Linked DNA regions of Homo sapiens: region 2 is linked to region 1. A link means that fine-mapping ties the variant in region 1 to the expression of a gene that starts in the linked region. Tissue or cell type: lung. Region 1 holds a variant in brackets; the other region holds the start of a gene. All regions are shown on one strand. Distances are between the middles of the regions.

Region 1 (10,618 bases):
GAAAATGGACCAGATCTGGCTCATCGTAGTGACTTCTGCTCTATGAAAAACCTGTCTAATAGCCCGATATAAATTTCAGCAGCTCTAATCCTAAGCTCTCCCTGCAGTGAACCAAAGCTCATATTGGCACAACTTCCACTTTAGATTATATAATTCTGTCCTATGGATCAACACAGAATAACCCTATTCTTTGTATGTATTTCCTTTTTGTTCTTGAAATGTTCTCCAAAAACACTGTCTAAGCCTTTACTTTTACTCTTACCTTTGCTAATACACCCAGTCTCTTTTTGCTCTCTGAACTATCTTTTTGAATTTATCTATTACTGTTTTATGCTTTTCTTTAAATTGTCTTCATCTTGCCCCTTCTCAAGTATCTACAGTGAGTCTCTACTGCCTTTCATTTTTAGTGTGTCTGTGGTCTGGCCCACGGTTACCTATTTAAATCTCCCAGTTTGTACCTTCTGCTCTAACATATTGTTGGCAGGAAATGATTCTTCCATTCCTGATGTTTCTTTCCAAGGAGTTGGAAGTCTACTGCAGTCTACTCCTGCTTTTCTCTGTCCCTGTACTGTTTCCATCTCTGGTATACAGAAGTGATTTAGCTGATGAGTAAATTTGAGAATAATAAACTGGGCATGCTTACATAAGCTTTCTTTTCTCCTACCTTGGAATTTCCTTTCTCCTACTGGGATTGAGATACCCACAGAGAACAGAAGTCCTCCATCAGTAAGAGTGATATTTTGGCCTCCACCTGTCTTTTAACTTGTACAGAACCTAGTTAGAGAACTGAGGGGTTATTTATTGTGCCCTCTGAATAATGCAATTCACCATGTTCCTTCCCAGCTAGGGAGAGTCTGAAATCTCATAAATCATTACAACTAAAAGGTAGTGCCTTTACAGCAAAAGAAACTACCATCAGAGTGAACAGGCAACCTACAGAATGGGAGAAAATTTTTTGCAATCTACCCATCTGACAAAGGGCTAATACCCAGAATCTAAAAAGAACTTAAACAAATTTACAAGAAAAAAATCAAACAACCCCATCAAAAAGTGGGTGAAAGATATGAACAGACACTTCTCAAAAGAAGACATTTATGCAGCCAACAGACCCATGAAAAAATGCTCATCATCACTGGCCGTCAGAGAAATGCAAATCAAAACCACAATGAGATACCATCTCACACCAGTTAGAATGGCGATCATTAAAAAGTCAGGAAACAACAGGTGCTGGAGAGGATGTGGAGAAATAGGAACACTTTTACACTGTTGGTGGGACTGTAAACTAGTTCAAACATTGTGGACGACAGTGTGGTGATTCCTCAAGGATCTAGAACTAGAAATACCATTTGACCCAGCCATCCCATTACTGGGTATATACCCAAAAGATTATAAATCATGCTGCTATAAAGACACGTGCACATGTATGTTTATTGCAGCACTATTCACAATAGCAAAGACTTGGAATCAACCCAAATGTCCATCAATGATAGACTGCATTAAGAAAATGTGGCACATATACACCATGGAATACTATGCAGCCATAAAAAAGGATGAGTTCATGTCCTTTGTAGGGACATGGATGAAGCTGGAAACCATCATTCTCAGCAAACTATTGCAAGGACAGAAAACCAAACACCACATGTTCTCACTCATAGGTGGGAATCGAACAATGAGAACACTTGGACACAGGATGGGGAACATCACACACCGGGGCCTGTTGTGGGGTGGGGGGACGGGGGAGGGATGGCATTAGGAGATATATCTAATGTAAATGACGAGTTAATGAGTGCAGCACACCAACATGGCACATGTATACATATGTAACAAACCTGCACGTTATGCACATGTACCCTAGAACTTAAAGTATAATAATAAATAAATAAATAAAAGTAGTGCCTTTAATCTTGCCCAAGGTGGTCCTGCAGCCTTTCAAAGAGCTTAATTAAGCCCATAGTAAGAAATATTGTATTTTACCAGGTTATATTGTAGGTCATAGAGAATGTGATTCTGCCCTCCCCACCATCAGCAGCATGGGATATGTGTGTGTGTGTGTGTGTGTGTGTGTATGTGTGTGTGTGTTGGAGGGCAATGAAGAAAGACTAGTTGACTCACAAAATATTTGTTCTTGCCCAAGAATCTGTGGTTCTGAGAAAGACAAAGACCTAGAAGAACATCCAGATGATCGGGAGGCAGTGTTTCCTACCTTGGTCACATCAGATTCAACAACAAAGTCCACTCACTTGTCTGACAGAAGTGACCAGCCCAGTGGTTCTAGTCACCTCAGGCCTCATCTAGGTGCTCCAAAGGCCAAGAAGCTCAGTATCTTAACACAACCATGTGCCTATGCACATCAGCTCAAAAACTCTGCCTTAAGTCCAGTGACCATAGCTTATTTGTCTTTATTTCCCTAGAATCTAGCAGAGGGTTCTAGCACTCAAAAATCTTTATTGAAAGATAGACATGGGCTGGCACGGTGGCTCATGCCTGTAATCCCAGCACTTTGGGAGGCTGAGGTGGGTGGATCACCTGAGGTCAAGGAGTTCGAGACCAGCCTGGCCAACATGGTGAAACTTCGTCTCTACTAAAAACACAAAAAACAAGCCAGGCATGGTGGGGGGGACGCCTGTAATCCCAGCTACTCGAGAGGCTGAGGCAGGAGGATTGCTTGAATCCGGGAAGCGGAGGTTGGATTGAGCCAAGATCGCATTGCTACACTCCAGCCTGGGCGACAGAGCGAGATTCTGTCTCAAAAGAAAAAAGAAAGATAGACATGAACACACAGGCTCCTTCTAACCCCAGGGAATGGAAGGTGCAAGATTCAAATAGCCGAAGTCCTCAGAATACTGTCCTGACTATTCAGAATCAGCTTGATCAGAGAAACTTGATGTTAATACTCATCTGTCATTTGCATGGATTTTTTTTTAAATAATAAAATGCAGGCGACAGTGTCAGACAGGCACACATTCATTGCTGGTAGGAAGACAAACAGGTGCCACTATTCTGGAAATGTGAATCATAAACCTTAATGTTTTCATACTCTGGGACTTTTAAGAATTTTTCCAGAGGAAAAATTCAAAAATGAAAATAAAAATTTATACCTGAAGATATTTATTACAGCATTATTTTGCACAACAATAGGGCATTAGGCAAATTATCATGTGATGGAATTTTATGAAGTTTTTTGGCATCATTTATGAAGAGTTTTGGTGACATAGGAAAGTACTTCTCTTGTACTATTAGGTGATTGAAAATAGAATACAAAGTGGTTTATAAATTTTAATTTCAACCATTTAAAAATATATATATACATATCGATATTCCAAAAATAACCAAATAATCACTGAGTGATAGGGTTATCGACAATTATTGGTTTCTTGGTTTCTTCTCTTTACCTTTCTTTTATTTTCTTACTTTCCTTTTTTTTTTTTTTTTTGAGACAGTTTTGCCCTTGTCTCCCAGGCTGGAGTGCAATGGCAAGACCTCAGCTCACTGCAACCTCCATCTCTGAGGTTCAAGCGATTCTCCTTCCTCAGCCTCCCAAGTAGCTGGCATTACAGGCACCTGCCACCACCCCAGCTAATTTTTTTGTATTTTTAGTAGAGACGGGGTTTCACCATGTTGGCCAGGCTGGTCTCGAACTCCTGACCTCAGGTAATCCACCCACCTCAGCCTCCCAAAGTGCTGGGATTACAGGCGTGAGCCACCATGCCCGGCCTACCTTTCTATATTTTCTAAATTTTCTACAGTAATACTGCCTTAGTTTTATAATCATAAAATATTTAGTAAAATCATATTTATGGGATCTGTAATGAGATGGTAAATTCTTATAACAGTAAGCAAATTAAGATGCATAATTGTATATATAATATGACTACAACATTTAACCTTTGTAAAATATATATTTAGAAAGGAAAACTCCAAAATAATAACTGTGGTTGTTTTTGGGTAATAAGATTGAGCAATTCTCATTCTCCTTTCTACTTTTCTGCATTTTTCAATTTCAAACAATGAAAATATATTGATCTTATGATGATAACAGCAATAAAATTTCATGATTTTTAGTTCAAAATTTAACTCAGGCTTATTTTGGTAGAATTTTCAAAGTAGAAGATTAAGGAAAGCTAAGTTGGAGGAGGACCTAATTATTATTTGAGAAAGAGCTCTGGCAAAAACGTCAGTGAGATTAAAACAGTCTCATTGTAGCTTGAAAAAGACCCCATTCAACTCGATTTTCATAATCTAGTCTGCAGTCACTGTTAGACTTGAGAACAACAGTTAAACTTTGACATTTTCTGCACTCTAACTTTTCTTTCTATTCCAACAACTCACAGCTATGTCAATTTTTACATTTAAAGCATCTCTGGAAACAAGAAACAATGTTTAACAGACATAAAGACAATAAAAATACAATGTCTCCTTATTATCTTTTTCATCTTCAACATGTTTTTACTAAGATTCATTTGTCAAGAAATGACAGATGTGGAGAGTTTACCAAAAAAGGACACAGCCTTTAGCATATAATCAGGGAGAATTTCTTTCTACTGATCCATGTTGACATTAACTAGCAATAAGGTTGCTTGGCATTTCCTCCCTGGAAGTGAATTTGCCCCGTTACTGGAATATCTTTCTTCCGCTTCATAAATCTGATAGTGTGAGCATCAGGAAGCCCTGCTACTGTCCAACACTACTTCTAGTGGGCTAGAAAATAAGCAGCTCCATGTTTATGACAATTCTGACTACTTACGGGTGAAAAGAAACAGAAAAAAAACCAAGAAGGCTATCAAAATGCAAAATAATTCAAATGGCAAAATTAATCTCTTCCAGTTTTTGGAATATAATCTGCCAATCCCTTTGTGTTTTAATGTGCTGACAGTGAAAAGAAGAAATTAATCTCAAGAAGCATTTTAGCTGATAATGAATTATCAATTTGAAACTAAGATATTTATTCTAATGGAGCATGCAATATATCAGAGAAAGTATTTAGCAAGAAGTCTCCTTCCCCTCATCCCACCCTGAGGCTATAACACTGAGCTGCTTTACCATTAACACAGGGATTCGCTGATACACTAGGTCTTTTGAAACCTGTCCAAACATTTCTCTCTATTCTTTCTACTCATACAGTAAATTATCATGAGATGGAATTTTATAAAGCTTTTTAGGCATCAATTATGGAGAGTTTTGTTGACATAGGAAAGTACTTCTCTTGCACTATTAAGTGATTAAAAAAAGATTACAAAGTGATGCAAAGTTATAATTTCAACCATTCTAAATATATATATATATACATATTAATATTCCAAAAATAACCAAATAACCACTGAGTTATTATGGGCAATTATTGGTTTCTTCTCTTTACCTTTCTATATTTTCTAAATTCTCTAATATTAAAGTGAAAAATAGAATTTGTACACAGATAAATAAATGTCAAAGGGCTGTGGAGTAAAATATGAAGAACGGAAGAAAGGACATTGTAGCAGAGGATGCTAGCTGCTCACCAATATCTAATTGCTCTCTTTCCTGGGCACACAGGTAAACTACATTTCCCAGCCTCCCCTGAAGCTATGAGCAGTCAGTCACGTGGCTGTGTTCTGGCCAATGGATGCAGGCAGGAGAGAGACATCACTTCTGGACCTGGACCAGAACAACCTCCATGTGCAATCCAGTCTCTCTGGCTTCACCTGCCAGTTGAATGGAGAAGTCCTCAATGACATTAAAAAGAAAAGGAAAGAAAAACTGTGAGGAAATAGCAGAGGAGAGCTGCCCAGGAACTGCTTGTCCACAAATGCTCATATTGAACTATTACATGAGCAAAAACTAAACTTTTATTATGTTAAGCCACTGAAATGTTGGGGTTGTTTGTTTTAGCAGTTAGTCTACCTTACGACCATAATTACATCTATTTAAACAACTGTTGAAACAGCCATCCACATAGAGAACTTCACCTATGTTATATCCATGATGAAAAGCAGAAACTTAAAAAATGACAAATTTGTGTTTTCAGCCCACAGATAAATAATTCAAATTACTGTTTGATTTCACAAATCCCTTGTTCTCTAGATGTGGTGAAACATTTAAAAAGTTTTTGCTAACTTGGTGGCCATCAATCTGAGAACATCACATCACTCTGCATAGGATGTGATTAGATTTAGATTTGGAGGAAGACATCACAGAAGAGGTAGCATTTCAACTCAGTCTTGAAATATGAGAAAGAGCAAAAC[A/G]TGTGATTAGTGTCCAAGAATTTTAAACAGGAAAGGGTTCTTAAGATAAGAAAACTAAGAGCCAGAGAGGCTGGAACTTGTCCAAGGTCACACTACCATACTGTAGCAATCCTTGGTTTAGATGAGGAATTCCTTCACTTCCAGGCTAATATTTCTTGTCTTTCCCATTTTCCTCCATATTAACTCACATAGCAAAGTATGTTTTGTGAATTGTCTGTTATTAGGCAATGACTGCATGCATTTTCAAAATTTTTAATATCTGTCTACACACACACATGTTCATAAACATACCTGCATGTATGTAGGTATGTTCCTAGCTGAACCACAGCAGATCCTCTAATACAATTGTGTCCATAATTAAGGAATACTTCTCCATTCCTGCTGACTTCAAATTGCAAATATCTAGCCACATACACTATGTGGTAACTAGTCTCCTAAGATGGACACCAAATTTCACGCCTCGTGGTATCCATGCCCTCGTGTGGTTCTCTCCTACACCGACTTAAGATTTCCAATCGAAAGTGGTCAAAGTGGCACGGCACCAATTTCAGCCTTTAAAAGGACTGGCTGCTGCTTCTTCCTCCCTCTTGGAACATTCCATTTGTGGAATCCAGAGCCACAGTGTAAGAAGTACAGCCATGTAATTAGGGTGGGCGCAGTGGCTCATGCCTGCAATCCCAGCACTCTGGGAGGCTAAGGCGGGTGGATCACTTGAGGTCAGGGGTTCGAGACCAGCCTGGCGAACATGGTGAAACTATGTCTCTACTAAAAATACAAAAATTAGCCAGGCGTGGTGGCACATGCCTGCAATCCCAGCTACTCAGGAGGCTGAGGCACAAGAATCGCTTGAACCTGGGAGGTGGAAGTTGCAGTGAGCTGAGATCATGCCATTGCACTCCAGCCTAGGCCTGGGTGACAGAGTGAGATTCTGTCTCAAAAAAGAAGGAAGGAAGTACAGCTACATGACTAGAAAGACCACACAGAGAGGCCATATGGAGAAGGAAAGAGACCTAGCTGTCTCGGGATCCCAGTTGCAACCACCAGTTGACCCCCACCACAGCCAACATCTTACTGCAGCCACAAGAAAGATCCCAGTTAAACCAGTAGAACTTCATGGCTGTGCTCAGTCAACCACAGAACAATGAGAGCTAATAAACTGGTTATTGTTTAAGTACTCATAAGTTTTAAGTTTAAGCAATACACGACCAAAACAGGACTTGATTCATAGAAGTAGGGTGTTGCCATAACAAAACCCTAAAACATATGGCATGGGCTTTGGAATTCAGTGGCAGGCAGAAGCTGGAAAGCTCCTTAAGGAGGTGAATAGTGAAGACTCGAAGGACACCGAAGAAATTGCTATTGGAAACTGGAGAAAACGTGACCTGAATTATGTGCAGACCAATTAGCAAAACTATCCCCTGTAGCATGGAAGACAGGAAGAATATGTCGTAAACAGATAGCTCTGGCTAGGAGATTTTCAGTCAGAATGCAGTCAGCTTCTCTGTATCCATGGGTTCTGCCTCCACGGGTTCCTCATCCATTGGCTCAACCAACCATGGGTGGAAAATACTCAAATAAATAATAATAGTACAGCAATAAAAATAATACCCATTTTTAAAATGTAGTACCACTATTTACATAGCATTTACATTGTATCTGATATTATAAGTAATCTAGAGATGTTTTAAAGTATACGGAAGGATGTGCATAGTTTATATGCAAATACTCTACCATTTTATATAAGGGACTTGAGCATCCTCGCATTCTGGTATCTGCAGTGTTCCTGGAACCAATTCCCCACACATACGACTGTATCAAAAGCACCAACTGGCTTCTTTTGGCTGCCTGTGTTAACATACAGGAGGAGAAACATGAACTAAAAAAGTAATTCTTCAGTTTTTAACCAAAATTAGGAGAAAATATACAGAATTTAGGACTTTCTGGATTCAAAAATAAAACTTTCTCTTTTCTAGCTCCTCCAGGCAGCAAAAGATCCTGGAAGAGATGACCTCACAGCAAAGATCAAATCCAGGACTCTTCTGGCAAAACATGATCCCAGGAGTAATTTTGCATCAGTGAGGTAGCCAATTTGTTGAGACCTTAGGAAGTGTTGAGGATATTCCTCATAGACCCTTTTATCTACACAGAAAGACTTCTAAGAACCTTAAATGGTATGTCTTATAAACACTCTCACCCAGACAATAGAGCTTCTAAGAATATTAAGACATTGTCCCACAGCACCCTGATTCACAGGCCAAGGTAGAGGGGGTCTGTCTCAAAAACAATTGTGTATGTGGCTTCTGTCTAATCGAGTGACCCTGTAAGGTTGATAGGACACTGGCACAGTTCAAGAGAACTGTACCATCAGCTTGGACTAAAAGATGCAAACATAGTTTAAAATGAAAAGAAGTCTGATATATGTTCATCAGCTTGCTCCTTTCCCCCCGTGGACGCCGCCAAAGAAGCATAGTTAAAGTCTCTCTTCTTCCTGCTGTCATGTCTAAGTCAGAGTCTCCTAAAGAGCCCGAACAGCTGAGGAAACTCTTCATTGGAGGGTTGAGCTTTGAAACAACCGATGAGAGCCTGAGGAGCCATTTTGAGCAATGGGGGAACACTCACAGACTGTGTGGTAATGAGAGATCCAAACACCAAGTGCTCCACGGGCTTTGGTTTTGTCATATATGACACTGTGGAGGAGGGGGATGCAGCCATGAATGCCAGGCCACACAAGGTGGATGGAAGAGTCATGGAACCAAAGAGAGCTGTCTCAAGAGAAGATTCTCAGAGACCAGGTGCCCACTTAACTGTGAAAAAGATATTTGTTGGTGGCATTAAAGAAGACACTGAAGAACATCACCTAAGAGATTATTTTGAGCAGTGTAGAAAAATTGAAGTGACTGAAATCATGACTGACAGAGTCAGTGGCAACAAAAGGGGCTTTGCCTTTGTAATCTTTGACAACCATGACTCTGTGGATAAGATTGTCATTCAGAAATACCACACTGTGAATGGCCACAACTGTGAAGTTAGGAAAGCCCTGTGAAAGCAAGAGATGGCTAATGCTTCGTCCAGCCAAAGAGGTCGAAGTTGTTCTGGAAACTTTGGTCGTGGTCGTGGAGGTGGTTTTGGTGGGAATGACAACTTTGGTCATGGAGGAAACTTCAGTGGTCGTGGTGGCTTTGGTGGCAGCCATGGTGGTGGTGGATATGGTGGCAGTGGGGATGGCTATAATGGATTTGGTAATGATGGAAGCAATTTTGGAAGTGGTGGAAGCTACAATGACTTTGGCAATTACAACAGTCTTCAAATTTTGGACCCATGAAGGGAGGATTGGAGGCAGAACCTCTGGCCCCTATGGTGGTGGAGACCAATACTTAGCCAAACCATGAAACCAAGGTGGCTATGGCTGTTCCAGTAGCAGCAGTAGCTATGGCAGTGGCAGAAGCTTAGCAGGATAGGAGAGCCAGAGAAGTGACAGGGAAGCTACAAGTTACAACAGATTTGTGAACCCAGCAAAACACAGTGGTGGCATGGCCTAGCTGCTACAAAGAAGACATGTTTTAGACAAGTACTCATGTGTATGGGCAAAAAGCTCGAGGACTGTATTTGTGACTAATTGTATAACAGGTTATTTTAGTTTCTGTTCTGTGGAAAGTGTAAAGCATTCCAACAAAGGATTTTGAAATGTAGATTTTTTTTTGCACCCATGCTATTGATTGCTAAATGTAATAGTCTGATCGTGATGCTGAATAAATGTCTTTAAAAAAAATGAAAAGAAGTCGCTGGGCCATAGGTTTATATTGATAGAAAGAAAGCTGAGGAAGCTACTCAGCTGTAAATACAGGCCATTTCTTATGCAAAAGGAAAGATGACTCAGAGGGTGAAAACAAAGCCTAAATGGTGGAACCAAGAGCCACAGAGGACCACTCTAGGGAGTAGAAATGAATTTTGGTCAAAGAATTGGCAAAATTTTCTCAACTTAATTTCAGAATTGCTATGAACCAGTGACTGCTCTATGCTTCCTGTTTTCCCTTTCATGAATGGGATTTCTATTTCAGTTTTTCATCACTGCCTAGCCATTGTATTTGTGTTTTGGGTGGGAAGCGGATTATTTGTCTTTTTACTTCATCAGTCTTCAGGTTGACGATAGCTGAACCCAAGAAACCTTAAGCTCACCTAGATATGATTCAGATGACATGATCCTGGATTTAAAGCCCAAACCTGATGCCATGGTATGAGTAGACTTCAATGGTCTTGGAAGGGAGAAAAATGTATTTTGCATGAAGGAAGGACATACATTATTGAGAAACAGAGGGTGGACTGTGGTGGCTAGTCTCTAAGGATGGCCATCCATTGTACCATGACACTCAGTATTCATATCCTTGCATAAAACCCTCCCA
Region 2 (10,618 bases), 21 kb before region 1:
GAAAGCAAAAGACTGAGCCACACAGGTCAACTAAAGTCAGCTTTCCCCAAGGTCCGGTGCTATGCATCGTGCATCTCCACAATCCCTTCCCAACCAGAAGAGACGAGAATCCTAAGGGAGCATGATATAGGACAAGTAGTTTTTTAGGGGGGTTTTTTGTTTGTTTGTTTTTTGAGACAGAGTCTCATTCTGTGGCCCAGGGTGGACTGCAGTGACGCTCACCGCAACCTCCGCCTCCCGGGATCAAGCGATTCTCATGCCTCAGTCTCCCGAGTAGCTGGGATTACAGGTGCGCACCACTGCGCCCGGCTAATTTTTGTATTTTTTTAGTAGAGATGGGGTTTCACCATATTGACCAGGCTGGTCTCAAACTCCTGACCTCAGGTGATCCAACCGCCTCAGCCTCCCAGAGTGCTGGGATTACAGGCATGAGCCACCACGCCCAGCAGGACAAGTAGTTTTTGACTAAAGTTTCAGGAAAAGCTTCCTTAACTCTCCTAGGAACAGACCACATAGGATTATCTCAGAATGAATGAATGAATCTAAAGTGTTTCTCCTGCTTTTAAAATGTATGGTCCATTTTATTAATATATTGCATTAATGGTTAATAAAATGCTTATATTTAGTAATCATACAATTCCATTTACGCCCATAAAAGTCTCCACAAGTGAAAACGATCGATCTTGATAACAAAGTAAGAGATATAAGAAAAAAGCAATGTTTTTTCCTTCTCTAGTCTCACACAACACTTAACCCAACACTTCTGACATCTGACGTATGGGAGGGTTTTCCCCACACACCAAGTAATTCTGCAGATTCTCCATCACATACCACCTCGATGTCCTCCAATTCAATTCTGACACTCTTAGCCTGGAGACAGCGTCAGATCCACTGGTTGAAGGCCTAGTCCCACAAGCCTACAAATGCCCACTTCAGATGCCAATCTCAAGCCCCAGATGGAGGCCTGTGCTCCTGACAGATCAGCTATAAACTAGGGTAGCCACAATTCCCTTAAATTAATTTGCTAGAGCGGTTCACAGAACTCAGGAAATACTTTACTTACACTTACCATTTACATAACAGATATTACAAAGAATACAGATGAAGAGCCAGATGGAAGAGACACATAGGGCGAGGATCTTCAATGCCCTCCCCAGGAACTCCACCCTCCAGGAAGTTCCACATGTTCAGCTATCCAAAAGTTTCCAGAACCCAGTCTTTTGGGTGTTTATGGATGCTTCCTTACATAGGCATGACTGATTAAATCACTGGCTATTGGTGATCAACTCAACCTTCTGCCTCTCTCTTTGGGGTTGTGGGGTGCAAATCCCAAACCTCTAATAATGTGCTGGTCTTTCTGGTGACCAGCTCCCATCCTGAAGCTATTTAGGGACCCCCAGCCACCCATCATCTCATTGGCATATGAAAGACACTCATCACTCTGGAGATTCCAACGGTCTTCGAAGCTGTGTACCAGGAAACAGGATAATTACCAAATACATTTCACAATATCACACAAAGCAAAATTAAATTTTTCCATTTCAGACCCTAATACTGCTACACGGCAGGAATCTGACTTCCTAGCTAGCAAGAAAGAATTTATAATAAATCATCAGAAAATAAAATTGTCTTTAAAGAATCTTGAATTTGAGTAAGCACCAAAAATCAAGGAATACAGCATTTGGATCCAAGGTGTCAAAACTCCCTGCCTGCTCTAGACTACCTTGGTTTATGCCTACTAACCTGGCATAATTATTAGGAGTGCCCACTTCTACTTTAAAAAATGGCACAGTTTGGACAACTGGTTATACATCACTCTATGCAGATAAAAAAGATTTTTCAACATTGTTTGACAAAGAAACATTAAGGCATTCAGAAACATTAGGATGCAAAGAGGTGGTTTGCACAATCTGCTTTTACACTCACCAATTCTGGAAGAGTTAATAAACATGTTAACTTTCACAGCTATAAAGTAATAAAGATTGATCAACATTGAACATTTACGAAATTTCTTCAGACATAAATGTGGAGCTTGGCCTTGCAACCTATATTTGGGAATTTCCATTTCCACCTCTACCCCCAGTCTAGGGATCCATGAGAAAGGCACAGTGATTCAGCATTTCTAAGGCTTTCATTAAAATGTGCTTCAGTGCAATGAAATCAGGAGAGGGAAAAAAAGGTACATAACACAGATATTAAAAACTTCTTTACATAAAAGCAGAAATGAAATTCTATACTTTCTTACTGAAACATTTCTAAAGCAGCAGAACTGGCAAGTGTCTCTCATCACTGTTATTAAGCAAGTCATCCTAAGATACAGCAGAAAGCAGATGGAACACTTTTTATCAACTACTTCAAGAGATGCTTAAAAACAGAAGTAAAAGGGAGGTCACAGAACACAAAGGGTAATTTCAAGGCACCCACCAAACAACAACACTGTCTATACCTGTACGGGAGCACTTTTAGAATCTTGCTTATCTCATTTTCCTGCCTCCTGGAGGATAGATCATGTCTTTTCATCCTTTTAACCTTTATCTCTTATCTTTGAATACTTAGCATACCGCTTGCATATGAGAAAGGTGCAACAAATGTTTATAGAGTTAAACTAATAAGAAAAATGCTTTCAAATACGATTTCTGTAGAAACATTCTTTTCAAAGTACAGTATAAAAGAAACCCAACTATTCCTCTAGGTAAGCGGTGGGTACAGGTTTAACAAACCTTATTATCACGGAAGTCAGGTATATTACAGTCAAACCACGTCCCACCAAAGAAAACAGCCACATAAGGTTAAACTATAAGGCAAGCATTAGTCATAGCCTCAAACATCTGAGTTATTAAAAAGTGCCACTGAAATTTCAAGTCTCTGCTGAGGAGGGCTTGAGCATTCTTTGAAACAGGCTTTGAGGCAGCTGTTTTTCCTTCCTCCAGCATCCTAAGCAAAGGTGCTGGAGTTTGAGAACTAACCACTTAACTCTAAAAGGTCTCATTCATAAGGAAAGCTATAAAAGCCTCAATGCATTTTATCAAAAGGGCCTTGGATTTCTCTTCTTTAAAGACAACACCCATTTCTCCTATCAATAAGACAAATGAGTTAGACATGACCTATTAGTCACCCCATTAAGTTATATAGGAGCTTATGGAGAAAAGGGCTGGCTGAGAACAGAGACACATTTATCTCACGGTGGGTAGCAGCCACTTCAAAATAATGTGAAAGAAAGTTCACCTCTCCAGTAATATTCAAGGTGAAGAAAGCACTTTCTCAGAGACCTAACTTGTAAAAAATAGTAAAAATTAAACATTCAGGTCACCTGAATTTTATATTAGCTGCTTTACAACATAGGAAAATCACCCAAAAGCCTTAAATTTCTAGCTCCCCATTTGTAAAATGGGGATAAATACTGTTACCACTCACCTATATTTTAGAAAACTAATAAAAAACAATGATGTAAACTGCAGATACTTTCTTAAATTCTAGATGTTTAGACAGTTAATTGCTAACTGTTGTTCTCACCTGAACAAGTACAGATCAAAATGAAACATTTAACATACAGACTCTATTTTCTGCTCCCGATAAACAACAGAAGAACCGATAATCCATTGTTTAAATCTGCTCGGGGTTCAAAATAATATTAATTCAAGTAAAGAATAGTAACACAGGGAAAAAGATCCCTTAAACTCTTTGGATATTAAACATTTGTCTTCTACTGATACCTTGGTAAATATCAGTTCCACTTTCTGAACTAACCTGAAAGTAAAGCAACTGCTCATAATCAATGCAGAGTAGGTACTGAAGAATTATGCCAATCAAAATTGGTCTTCATATTATGCAAATAATTTGTGTCTAGTCACCATAATCTTTTTAAATGTCAAATTGTTTACCTATTGAAAATACAACAGAAAATTTTTTTTTCCTCCTACTGATCAATTAAAGAAACAGACTGTTTAAACACTCAATTTCTAAGTGGAAAGACTGATGGAGACACTGCAGCCAAATAGCTTCTTGAAGCAATCTTGCATGTGCAGATTGAAAGCAGTTTTTATATCATGGGAGACAGTTTTATATCAAGGCAGAATACTGCACCCTTACATAAAGCCTCACAGAAACAAGTTAGAATCATAAACACATTCACTTAACTACTGTTCAGTGCCCAATGTACCTGAAAGATACATGGATATCATTTCAGGTATCAGAAAATTCTAGTTCCAGTTTAGTCAGAGAAGAGAAACAACAGTCTTATCCCAGTAGATCCCAAGTTAATTCCTTCCAGTTTCTCCCCTATCATAATATTAATTGCTTTCTTAATAAAATGCTGCAGTAAAATTTGTGAACTCAGATTCTGGCAGAAAATCAAATCAAAGGAAAACTCTTCATGATAGTTACTTTTGCATAGCCAGCCTCCTGCCTACCTTATTATGTTTTTGCTGGTGTCTTGCCTTTGTGTCAAGAACGTGATAAGGGCTTTCCGAGTCTTGGTTGATGTAATATATGAGTCTTGAAGGCAGTGTGATTTCTTTCTGCATTGCATTGCTGTAACTGATATTACTGCTGCTATTCTGTTGCAATGTATTGTCTTCATCTGCCAGGACTCCCAAATTTTTTTCTGCAGTTTCATTCCAATGCGGAGCTGGTGGAGGTAGGGGGGTGGGGGAGCAGAAAATACAAACATACACAAACACACACATATTTACCCCATAAATACATAAGCACTAAAATGCATTTTTCCTTTAATTTCAAACACAAAGTTTTCTATTTATAAGCAGTTAAGAAGTAGAGCTAGAGTAAAGCAAGTTATTTCAACAATAAAATGGCCTGGAGAAGTTAATAAATAGCCAATAAGGCTTATACAACTGTGCACTATTTATTTTGATTTATGTCTTATATATACATTTCTAGTCAGACTCAAATCTATACTTCTAAGTGTTGGGGGGGGGGTAGAATGAACTTGAGGGAAGAAGAGTCATTAAATGAACATGTTCAGGGGTCCTGCCCCCGATCTCCACCCCTTCTCTGAGTCCACAGAAGCACAACTCTACTCTGCCTAGTGGCATCCCATCCAAGAGCTAAGAACGCTCCTAAGATAACTTGAGTACTGAATTTATGGATACCGAATATTAATCGACTCTTTTAACAAAATGGACAATTCCCTTCTCTTTTAACTTTAAGATGAGCAAACATACTTTGCCATGTAGGGATACAGATGCTGGCAGCTTCCCAATTTCTTTTTATTTTCCTGACAAAGCCAGCTTTCTGCTTTCAGTGACTTCCAATCATCAATATATAGAAGATGGTATTATATTAATTGTTCATTATAATGACAAGCACTTTGAGAAATCAGAACCAAAGGTCGTGCATGAAGTATGTCTTCAGCACCTTAATTCTTTGGTCCCCGAAGTGTGCCTCCCCCACCTTAATTCCAACCGCACTGAATGCGCCGGATACGAAATTTGAGGAAACAGCCCATTACCACTATTATCACTACATCCTCCCCGCATTCACATTAAGGTTCCACCACGCAAGTAGCAACTTGCTCCCTCGCTGTATTTCCCATCCACTGGTTGCCCCTCCGCAAGTTGCACAGAGATCGCTGAGGGACCCAGGATCCACTAAACACCTCCCAGTGGAACCAACAAGAATTGGAATGGGTTTTTCGCGAATGCAACAGAAATGGACTTCCAAAAGTGAACTGGGATGAATGGGGGTTTGGGAACGAGAAGGGTGGAAAGACAGGCAGGGAGGGAAGGAAAGGCCGAGCCGGGGACAAGCCCGGAGCACACGGACCCGCGCGCCCTTCGCTTTCCTCTGCAGGGCCCCGCGGGAAAGCCAACGCAAAGGGCACGGGGCCATACCCACCGCTGGGCGCAGCAGCCCCCCAGGCGCGGGGCCGGGACGAGGCGGCGAGCGGAGGCAGCAGGAGAAGGACGAGAAGCAGGCGGCAGGGCGGCGTGCGGGCCGGGGCGCTGGCAGGCACCGAGCCGGCGGGGCCGCGTTGGGGGCCGCAGGAAGCGCCGGCAAGGCTGCAGCCCGCCAGGGGCGGCTGCCGCGAGCTGCTGCCGGGCGGCTTCATGGCTCATAGCTCCCGGGCGCCGCTCCGTGTGGCCGGCGAGAGCGCCGGGCTAGCTGCGGGGCGGCCGCGGGCGGAGCCGGTCACGCCGGCTCGGCGCGCATGGTGCCGCGGCGGGCAGGGGGCTCCGGGCTCGGGGCACGGGGCGCGGGGCTCGGGGCTGGGCGGCGCCCCCTTTCCCGGCTCGCCTAGCCTCGCAGCCACTCCCGGGGCGGGACGCAGAGGAGTCCAGGGGTCCTCGCCGCTCCGCCAACTTGGAGCCTCCCCAGCGGCTACTCCCTCCCCCGGCGGGCGCGGCCGCTTCAGCGACTGCGGGGGCTGCCGCCGGGCCTGAGGATGCTGAGGCGGCGCGCGGGAGCGAGCGGCGCGGGGACGCGCGGGAGCGAGCGGCGCGGGGACGCGCGGAGCGGGCGTGCGCCCCGCCCCCCGAGAGCGCGCCCGAGCGGGGCTTCGGGTGCTGATGCTGTTGCTGGATGCTGTGCTGCTGCTGTTGCCTGGCCCGGAACGCACTGCGCATGCTTTGTTGGGGGGCGGGGAAGGGGGTAAAGCAGCAGAGTGATGCAGCAGCCCAAGCAGCATCGGAGGTGACGGGTGGTACCTCAAAAGATGGGGGCGGTGGAGGGGGAGCCGGCAGTCACGGATAAGCCAGAAGAAAGAGAGTACGGGGGTTTCCAGGCCAGAGACAGGGATGATCGGGAGAAAACAACCAGCCGAAGTCCACCTGCCTTTTCCACCACCCCAGACTTCACATACCCTCTCCTATTCCAACCTCTTCCTGCTCTGGATAAACTAAGGCCACGCATCTCCTTCTTAATCCCTTATATATTTGCTTCCTGCATGTAAATATAAAGGATTGCAGCCGGGGAGGTAAAAATAGCGCGGCTCCTCATTCAGATTGCCAGCAGCGGGTGGGACTGCGGCTGAGAAGAGCGTTTGCGCCGCAGGCTGGCGCGGAGTGGCAGGAATCCCCCGCGCAGGGGCGCTCTGCCCCGGCCTGTGTCCTCCCTGCCGGTGCCTGGGGTCTTTGAGGAAAGCACAAGAAGCCGGACGGTGTTTGCTCAAAAGTTCAGAAAGTATGACTGGGCATATTCGGGAAGGACTTCGACATTCTGGCGGGGAAGCAATACAGAGATTAGAAACCAAGTGTGTGGCAGCTATCTTGGGAAATCCGTTGTTTGTCAACCACGGGGATGGGCACACATTTAGGAGGACACATTTCTATTTTTGAGATCCAGTCCTGACTTCTGCAGAGGAAAGGGGAAGTTTTCTCTCGTTGCTGTAAAAAATGTAAATCCCTGACTTCGGTGGGTTCGCAGCCACTAAATCTGATGGCTTCAGATAAGAGTCTGTGGCATATTTCTGCCCCCAAACTCTCATAATGCAAGCATTCATTTATTCACCCTCCCAATGACAATCTGAGTGATAACAATGTTGTCTTACTCCGACATCCACGGGGTGAGGGCTGGGGTGGAGAATTCCATGATTAAAAGAAAGAATGTGGGTATAAAAGTGCCATGGCCATGACAGAACTCAGTGTTAGCCATCATCTTCTCCACTCACACTTAACAAAGAGAAAAGAAGAAGACATATACGCGCGCGCACACACACATTACAAAACTGTTAGGTAAATACTGAGATAACTTCCTTTCTATGTTGAGCTAGGATATTATTATCACATATTTATTCCTGTAAATTTGTAATTGTTGCTACCTCCCCCATGTGAGGGCAACAACAGTTTTCCCTTCTGCACACCATTGTGTCCCTAGGACCTCACACAGTGTCTGAGGCACAGAGAAATCGCTTGGAAAATATGTACTAAATGAATAAAGAAATGGGTGATACACACAAGCAGAAGTCACACTTGGGGCAGGCTAGTGAACACTCTAGCCCCACCGGAGTGCCCACTGCAGGTCAATGTTCTTAGGGTTGTCTCCCTCAAGTCAAGTATTCTCTGGCTAGGTTTTCCAAATTTATATTTGACACAATATGCATCCTGAAAAAGGGCCTGAGAGAAAGCAAGCCAGAAAGGAGATGTACAAGCAATGAGAAGGGAGAGGGAAATGAAAGGTGCAAAGCACCCAGATGCAAGTTACTTGAAAGGCATCTCTTGCAATTCAGTGACAACCTCTTAAAGTCTGTTCTGATAAATAAACCTATCAGCCAACCTGGACTGACCAAACCCACCCACCAGTTACAACACATCATTTCATGCACTTGGGGTATGGAATGAGGATTCAATATAGTTTCTTTTTTTCTTTTTTTTTTTTTTTTTTTGAGATGGTGTCTTGCTGTGTCACCCAGGCTGGAATGCAGTAGTGCGATCTCAGCTCACTGCAACCTCTGCCTCCCAGGTTCAAGCGATTCTCCTGCCTCAGCCTCCCAAGTAGCTGGGATTAGCTGGGATTACAGGCACGTGCCACTACACCCGGCTAATTTTTGTAGTTTTAGTAGAGACGGGGTTTCACCATGTTGGCCAGGCTGTTCTCAAACTCCTGACCTCAGGTGATCCACCCACCTCAGCTTCCCAAAGTGCTGGGATTACAGGCGTGATCCACCGCACCTGGCCTCAATATAGTTTCTAATAAGGGGTTGGGGTATTTACAAAGAGGGATGTTGTCTTATGTACTATAGTCAAAAGACTGCATTTATTTACAGAACTTTAATGGTTACAGACATTGCTAGAGTCAAAATAAGATATCAATAAATGAAATAATGAGTCAGAGAAAGAGTACATTACTTAGAAAAAATTTACTGGAAGTTTAGTCTTTAAGCCATATATTTAAGGGAAGGTTAAAAACAGAATCAAATATTAACTGATTAAATAATTTAATTGGTCAACTTGGTAGAGTTAGTAATATTCTTATTAGGTAGTTCAGAATTTTTATTTTTATAGAGTTTACTTCTAAATATTCCCCTCTGTGCTTTCATAAGATTTAGTGACTTGCTTAATCACTTGCCACCTACTGCTTTGCTCTGTATTCGTGTATGTGCATATCATCATTCTTCCATCAAAAAATACTGAGAGCAAGGCTGTATCTTGGTCATCTCTGACTCCACAGCCTAGTATAGTACCTGGAATCAAATCAGCATTCATAGAGGGGCACTCACAGGTAGGAAACAGAGGGATTCAGCAAGATGGACTGGAATAAAGAAATATACCAGAAGCTTGAGTGCTATAATGGCCCTGGTTACCAATGTGTGTTGGATCCTAAGGCCATCAGAGGATCACTGGAGTGATCTAGTCACAGTGGCAGACATGGAGAAATGCTGCAGTCGTAGGTGAAGGCAGGTGGCCAGAAGGTCCATGGGAAGGAAATTACACCAGGCAATATGGACCCTAGGTAAGCACCATGAGGGGTGCATGTGAGCAATACCCAGGAAGGGTCGTCATACTGTTCACAAAAATGGTCCATTGGTCTGGTGAGGGAGGAGATCAGAAGGTCTCTATTTGCCAAAATCTGTTTCCAGTGGTAGAACTGGACCCACTTTGCAACCAGTGAGAAGACTGGGTCTGGACAGGAGCAAGCAAAGGACAGAAATAGAAATATTAGATGTAGCAGGCCTTGGCCTCAAGAGGGCTGAGATGCTAGGGGAGAAAGTAGAAGAAGGGGATGACAGAAGAGAGGTCCAGAGGGTAAAATAAGTAAAAAAGCAGGGGAAGGTAGCAAAGCAGACTTACAAGAGCAATTGGAATGGAATAAGCATTTGCCCAAAAAGTCAAGGTCAAAGAAGGTGTGCAGCAAATTAGTGGATGGTGCTGATACTAAGAGAGATCTAGGGAGTGAAAGCAAGAGCATGAACAAGCCTCAAACAGCAGCTCTGGCTCAAGAGCAGCTTATACCCAGGAGCTCGCTGGGACAGCCTGTGTTACAGAGCCAGCTAGAGAAGGTTTCTCAGCCTCCTTTTAGAATAGCTGTGAAGACTGATTTTACCAGCGGAAGTGGATACTTCAAAGGAGAAAAGACAATGCATTTCTTCATGAAAGTAAAAAGCGAGTGTGCTTCGTTATTGGTACTTGCCACGTGGTTCAGGAGTCAGCAAACATTTTCTGTACAAGGCCAGATAATAAACATTTTGGGTTTTGTGGGCCATATGGTCTCTGCTGCATTTTTTTTTCTTTACAAACCTCTAAGAATGTGAAAACCATGCAGCCTACAGGACCTGGTTTGTCAGCTAGCCATTTTTAAATCTCTCTCTCTCTCTCTCTCTCTCTCTCTCTCTCTCTATATATATATATATATATATATATATTTACCTTAAATATATATACCTTATAATATATACTATATATATACACCTTAAATATATATATATGTAAGGTTAAATTTTTTTCATCAACTGTATTATGTCCTGTGCATATAAGCAGAAAAAGCGAAGGAAGCGTGTGCCACAATATAGAGGGCTCTAATTCTAGAAAAGATTGCTCTCCATTGTAATTTAGATAGTTGTTTAATCAGTAAGTAGTCACTAAATTCTCAAAAGATGTTCATCATTTGAAGGGATCCCTTAGGAAAGAAGTATTTCTCCTTTTGAAGCCAATTCTCAGATGATGAT

The links.
Region 2: ADAM23 starts here. The variant in region 1 is fine-mapped to the expression of ADAM23 in lung (TOPMed, PIP 0.97).

Annotation. Positions count from the first base shown.
Region 1 is chr2:206,418,335-206,428,952 of GRCh38, reverse strand. It overlaps the pseudogene HNRNPA1P51. Among named protein-coding and RNA genes, the nearest start is that of ADAM23, 20 kb to the left of the region's middle. The variant A/G (reference allele first, on the strand shown) is at 6,219.
Region 2 is chr2:206,439,316-206,449,933 of GRCh38, reverse strand. ADAM23 (ADAM metallopeptidase domain 23) reads right to left here and starts at 6,402. Exons shown (of 26, transcript NM_003812.4): 1 at 5,854-6,402; 2 at 4,410-4,627. The coding sequence starts at 6,067. RefSeq lists a silencer at 5,828-5,957.